Homo sapiens: one gene and its partner. The protein of the gene in region 2 purifies or fractionates together with the protein of the main gene of each other region. This does not show direct contact. Each region holds a gene or a part of one and is shown on either strand. Other genes may lie near its edges.

Region 1 (3,500 bases), on a different chromosome or scaffold from region 2:
AACCATACTTTAAGGTAAGGTATGTAAACTATTATAACTTTCATCTGTTTCAGATCAAATCCCAGATATGACAGGTAGGCTGTCTGTGCCTTCATTACAATTAGTTGTTCATACCTGTATTTCTTCCACTAGACAGTAGGTTTCTCAAGAGCAGCAATCACATCTTACTTTTTACCTGGCCTGATGTCTAGCACAAGGGAGATATTTCATACTCATGAAATGAACACTTGAATGACAGAGCTATTTTTTCATAAGTCTCAATTTGTAAATTATTTTAGAAATAAGTTCTCAAGAAGTCATGACTGGTTTTGTTGCTAGAAACCTTTATGATAAACTTTGTGTAAGCATCAAGTTACTTTAAAATTATGAGAAGTCACGTTATTAGTTTGAAAAGGATAGTAAGGAAAAAAAAGGAGCTAATAGCCAGAGTCTAGTCAATTACCAAGTGGAAAAAATGCCACTAAAGTCTCTCTCTGTTATTTTGGTGAGCAGATTAACTGCTTTCTAGTACTGGTGGTTGTGACGCTAGGTAAAAGGGGAAATGTAGGGCAGTTGCTATGCGTTGCCCAATGCAAGATCAATATTCTTTAAGTGGTATCCAGCCCTGTGATTTCAAAATGGATGTGTGCTTAATTCACTCCAACATGTGAATGTGTCTTATACCTTTCATCCAAGAGGCTGTAAGGCTAGAGGCATGCCAACCCTGTGTCTGTGCCTGTCTGTGAGGGGCACATGTGTGAATCAGGTCAGAGATGGCCACAGACACATAAGCTCACTGCTCTCCAACACAGGTTTCTTCTCTATCACAGAAGGGAAACTAACACACCTAGCTTCTCAACTACTTTAAGAGATTGGCGAAAGCATTTATTGTTCAGGCTTATTAGCTACAGATAATCAGGATCATCAATTTTGAGAGGAGGAAGACAACCCAGAGATCATTCAGTGTGGCGGCTCTCAAATGTTTTAGCCATGAACACCTTTTTCCATAAGAATGCATATTGAAGACCAATATGTACAACAAAGGTCAGAGAAGGAATCTTTACCAACCTTTCGGGAACCATGAAGGAGATTCATGAAATCTCTAATGTCCATCACAGTATAATGTTAAAAACCTCTGATCTCATACCCATTAGGATGGCTATTACTAAGAAAAAAAAACAAAAAAACAAAAAGAACACAACTATTGCCTCATGCATGACAGTCTTAACACCACCACAAGGCCAGTAGCTCCCTACATCTGCCTCTCAACTCCAGCCCTTCTCTTGGCCTCACCTTCTCCCCAACTTCACCTATTAACTAAGCCTAAAAATCAGCCGGGCGCGGTAGCTCACACTTGCAATCCCAGGACTTTGGGAGGCTAAGGCGGGCAGATCATGAGGTCGGGAGTTAGAGACCAGCCTGACCAACATGGTGAAACCCTGTCTCTACTAAAAATACAAAAATTAGCCAGGCATGGTGGTGCACGCCTGCAATGCCAGCTCCTCAGGAGGCTGAGGCAGAAGAATTGCTTGAACCTGGGAGGTGGACACTGCAGTGAGCCAAGATCACGCCTCTGCACTCTAGCCTGGGTGATAGAGAGAGACTCTGTCTCAAAACAAAACAAAACAATCATTTCCAGTTAGTAAGCCTACTCCCCAAGATCCTCTCAGCCCTAAGCTAGATGTCCCCCATATGCCCTGTAACATCCCTGCATCTGTGTACCACAGCACCTACCAAACTGTGTTATAGTAATCTGAACTCCTCTACTGTAGGCTCCTGACCAAATGTCATTCATCTTTGTACACTGAGAACCTAGACCCTGCCTGGCTGTGGCTGGCCCTCAGGGAATGTTGACTGAATAAAGACATTTGTTGGTAAAGTCAAGATGAGACCTGGTGGCTCTTTCCACTGCTGTAGCTGATGGCCTCTCCTGATAACGTAACCTCTTATTTAGAAAATAACTACAGAGAAACAAGTACAATTCATTCTCCTGAGTAATTCAGTAACACCCAAGTTACCGCCAACTTTCTGGGATGGAGAAGGCAGTGGAGAAATGAACTGCAAAAAAAGAAAGGCCTTCTTCTTCTCCTTTCATAGACATCTGTTATTTTTACAACAAATGAGGAGGACTCTTCCTGGCAGTTTGAGTGACCACAATTTAAATCAATCCATTGAGAACTCATGTTTTATATTACAGTGACCTACATGCTGGTAAGACCTTGAGGACAAGCAGTCTGCAATGGAAAAAAAAATATTTGAAGGCTATGTCCTCAGCTCCATGACTTTTCTAGGCCTGGTGGAAGGCAGGCTCAGCCAGAGAGGAAATATTTTTAGACACGGCTGCTTCAGAGTTGTAAAAATAGGCTAAGTGACTAGCACATTTGTCAAAGCCCCAGAGCACTCTGACCACAGGACCAAGTAAACATGCCAAGCAGAAGCACACTGGATTTATTTATCTTTGTAAATGTATCAAGAAGATTTGAAGCAGCTTTCTCCGAAGCACAACTTGAGTGGTGAGTCTATGAGACCTACATCAACTGGTCTGGTGACTGGTCTCCCTCCCATCTCCTCCCTCAACAGTTCCACTGGATGTCCCATGTGCCTAGACATTACAAGGAGGGCCACCGTTTTCATCCTCTCTCTGGAAAATCCCAAAGTTATGCAAACTATCTACCACACATGATTTCTGACTTTCTTCAGATCCCCAGAATAAGTAGACTGAGTCAGAGCTCCCTGAGGCCAACTGTGCTTCAGAGGCTGCAGCGCCTTAACAGCAAGGCCTGCCTTTTACGGTTGTCATGGTTTGATCCAGAGAGGAAAAAAGTCATACATCAGTTGCATCTCTCAGGGCTGGCATTTCTGGGTTTATGATTGTCTCTGGTTGTGTAATGTCTTGAACTCTGCCATCAGCACAAGTTGTCTTCCCTGACTTCAACAATTAGCAAAAGCTGTTCTGTTGAGGATGTCAACCACCACCACCACAACCAGCTGGTTTGTTCTTTTTTTTTTTTTTTTTGAGAAGGAGTCTTGCTCTGTTGGCCAGGCTGCAGTGTAGTGGTGTGATCTTGGCTCACTGCATCCTCCGCCTCCTGGGTTCAAGCAATTCTTCCACCTCAGTCTCCTGAATAGCTGGGACTGCAGGCATGTGTCACCATGCTCAGCTAATTTTTGTATTTTTAGTAGAGACAGGGTTTAACTTTGTTGGCCAGGCTAGTCTCGAACTCCTGACTTCAAGTGATCTGCTCGCCTCAGCCTCCCAAAGTGATGGGATTACAGGCGTAAGCCACCATGCCTGGACTGGTTTTTTTCTTCAAACAGTTAAATTAATTGGACAGACTCCTTTATTAGACTTCGAATTTTACATTTCAAAAAGTATTTCTAAAAGGCAAAGAAAGTGTGCGCCCATTTTTAGACTAGAATTGTGTTACATAGTTTTTTTTTAATTCAGTAAGTGTGTAGGTTTCATAATAACCCAGATAACCTCTCCCAGACTTCTCACCTCCCACAAATTCTGAAAAGGT
Region 2 (3,500 bases):
CCACAACTGTGCATAAGCCCTTCTTCTCCAGCCCTGGCTCAATATAAACCTTCCTCCTCCAGGAAGCCTTCTGTGACCACTAATGATAGAGTTAGGTGCACCTCTTCTGTTACTCCATGGCAGTCTGCACATATATATCAAATTATTATACTGATCATACAGTCCTATGATTTTTTAATTATTGATTTACTTATCTCCCTGAGTCAGTGTGTTTCATTCTTGAATCTCTAGTGCCCGCCACTTACATATATAATAAATAAATGCACCTTTGCCCATTTGGCAGAGGCCACTGACCTCCTGCCTACCTCTTGAAGACCCTACGCCAAGGTTCTGAGCTGCCTCCCCTGCCTTTAGATGCTGCCCTAAGTCTTGATCCCAGAAGGATGGGCCACCAGAGTCATGATGCAGCACATGGTCCTGATTCAGCCTCTGCTCTCCACTCCTCACCTGGATCCCCTAGATACTCAGAATGACCTAAATCAATATCAAGTTCATCTTGGACAAGTGGTTTGGACTTAGGCTCTCCTCCTTCCCCTCTGAAAGAATTCATCCCCATAGCTTAATCTCCCAGCCCTGTCTTTTTCTGCTCATTTCCCCACTTTGTATTTTTTTTTTTTTTTTTTTTTGAGACAGGGTCTCACTCTGTCATCCAGGTTGGAGTTCAGTGGCACGATCTTGGCTCACTGCAACCTCTGCCTCCAAGGCCCAAGCGATTCTCCCACCTCAGCCTCTCCAGTAGCTGGGACTACAGGAGTGTGCCACCATGCCTGGCCAATTGTTTTATATCTTTGGTAGAGAAAGGGTTTCGCCCAGGCTGGTCTCGAACCCCTGAGCTCAGGCAATCCACCTGCTTAGCCTGGGATTACAAGCATGAGCCACTGCGGCTGGCCTGATTCCCCCACTTTTAACCTATTACACAGAGTGGTAAAGCATAGGATATAGAGTCATACTGACAAGTTCAAATCCTGGCTGTGAAGCTCGTCAGTGTGCAACTTTGAGCAAATTACTCAACCCCTTTGTGCCTCAGTTTCCTCATTTACATTGGCAATGATAATACTAGTACCCACCTAATATGGGTGAAAATTTAATAAAATATCATACCAGATGTCTGGCACAGGGTCAGGATCATAGAAGACACTTGGTGAACATTAGCTATCAACATCTCCAGCAGAGAGAGGCAGGTCCCTCACAGACTAAGACATAGTCTGGCTGAAGATAGGGGTCCAGGCTCCAAAGCCAAGGTCAGGCCCCTCAGTGCCCATGGCCATTGATATCACTGGGAGACATTTCTCTGACAAAGGCCCCTGCCCTAGCAGGTCTACCTAGTCTACAGGCCCTGATTTATCCCATCTACCTCCTCTCTCTGCTTCTGCAGCTAAAGACACACTGGAACCAATCAGACCATTTAAAAACAGAGCTAGGTCAGGCACCATGGCTCATGCTTGTCATCCCAGCACTTTGGGAGGCTGAAGCAGGCAGATGGCTTGACTCCAGGAGTTTGAAACCAGCCTGGGAAACGTGGTAAAACTCTGTCTCTACAAAAAATACAAAAAATTAGCTGGGTGTGGCAGCGCGTGCCTATAGTTCCAGCCACCTGGGAGGCTAAGGTGGAAGGGTCACCTGCGCCCAGGAGTTTGAGGCTGCAGTGTGCCATTGTTGTGCCACTGCACTCCAGCCAGGGTGACAGAGTGAGACCCTGTCTTAGAAAAACAAAAACAAAACAAAACCAAAAGCAGAACTTTCTCCACCATCCAACTAGAGGCACTTTACATTCTTTTGGAACCAGCTACCCAAGTGAAACACACGGCAAGAATGAGCGGTGGCTGCTTCATCTCATTGGAAACTGAAGGATACTTGCATGCTAGTCCTTTGTACACATATAAGGAAGTATATGATCGAATGTTAATTTTAAGGTTGGAAATCTGATAATTATACATTCTTCATTTCTATTTAATTCTCCTTCTTCACAAACAATGTTCAATGGGCAGGTGATATCTGTAACACTATTTTTTTTTAATTAATTGGTAATACATAAACATAACAAATTCAAATAGTACAAATAAGTACATAACAACAAGTCTGTAAGACTTTCCTTCCCCCTCCCCAGGCAACCACTCTTATAATTTTCCTGTGTATCCTCCTAGAAGTATTTAATGCACTAATAAGCATATGAGAATATAGACAGCCTCCATCTTTTTCTTTTTTTTTTTTGAGATAGAGTCTCGCTCTGTCACCCAGGCTGGAGTGTAGGGGCATGATCTCGGCTCACTGCAACCTCCGTCCTGTGTTCAAGCAATTCTTCTGCCTCAGCCTCCCTAGAAGCTGGGATTATGTGCGTGCACTACCACACCTAGCTATTTTTTTTTTTTTAGTAAGAGACGGGGTTTTACCATGTTGGCTAGGCTGGTCTCAAACTTCTGACCTCAAGTGATCCGCCTGCCTCAGCCTCCCAAAGTGCTGGGATTACAGGTGTGAGAGCCTCCATCATTTTTATACACCAAAATGGTAGCATACCACACACAGCTGTACTTTACTTTTTAAAAAATATCTTCACTGTCATTCTATATCAGTTCCTATCAACCTGCACCATTTTTTAATAGCTACATAGTATTACTCTGCATAGATGTTCCATAATTTAACCAGATCTTTACTGATGTTTAGGTTGTTTCTACTATTTTGCTACTACAAACAAGGCTGCAATGTGTATGTCTGCTGGGGCTCAGAAACTGATATCCCAAAATATGGTGCTTTGACATGCTGAACCAAAGACATCCCCCCTCCTACCTCCTGTCTCTCAATCCTCTGTCTCTCCCAAAGTTGTTCTCTGAAGTTCCCTTATCTGACTAAAGTCTGGACCTACCAAAAAAGGAAACCATTACCCCTAGTCCCTTCCCTGAGTTTTCATTAGCTGAATTCATATTGTAGTAGGAAAGACAAAAGTCTGTCAACACACCTGGATGGACTTTTGTCACAAACCATTGTCTGTTCTGTGGGCCCAAGAGGCTCTGTCCCGGGCCATTGTATGTTCTTCGAGCCAGCTGAATTCCCCCAAACATCAGTTGCCACCTCCCTAAAACATCCACACTTCCTCAACTCTCTTTCCTCTAAAAAGTAGGGTGTAGGCCAGGCACAGTGGTGCACGCATGTAATCCCAGTACTTGGGGAGGCTGAGGCAGGTGGATCACTTGAGCCCAGGAGTTGGAAACCAGCCTGGGCAACATGGCAAAACTTCGTCTCTACAAAAAAATACAGAAAATTAGCCAGGTGTGGTGGCATGCACCTATAGTCCCAGCTACCCAGGAGGCTGAGATGGGAGGATCCCCTGAGCTTGGGAGGTCGAGGGTGCAGTGAGCCACGATCATGCCACTACACTCCAGCCTTGTGCAACAGAGTGAGACCCTGTATTAAAAAAAAAAAAAAAAAGAAGTAGGGTATACAAGCATCTGCACCCCACTGGAATATTAAGTAAATTCACTCTGTGATTTTCCTTCATGTATAAT

The links.
Region 1: the proteins of ANXA4 (region 2) and HADH fractionate together in Homo sapiens (co-fractionation; one large-scale study listed by BioGRID). This does not show direct contact.

Annotation. Positions count from the first base shown.
Region 1 is NC_000004.12:107,996,389-107,999,888, reverse strand, and holds part of HADH (hydroxyacyl-coenzyme A dehydrogenase, mitochondrial isoform 2 precursor), read right to left. Parts: intron 1-3,500. UniProt on the Homo sapiens protein: Mitochondrial fatty acid beta-oxidation enzyme that catalyzes the third step of the beta-oxidation cycle for medium and short-chain 3-hydroxy fatty acyl-CoAs (C4 to C10).
Region 2 is NC_000002.12:69,748,634-69,752,133, reverse strand, and holds part of ANXA4 (annexin A4), read right to left. Parts: intron 1-3,500. UniProt on the Homo sapiens protein: Calcium/phospholipid-binding protein which promotes membrane fusion and is involved in exocytosis.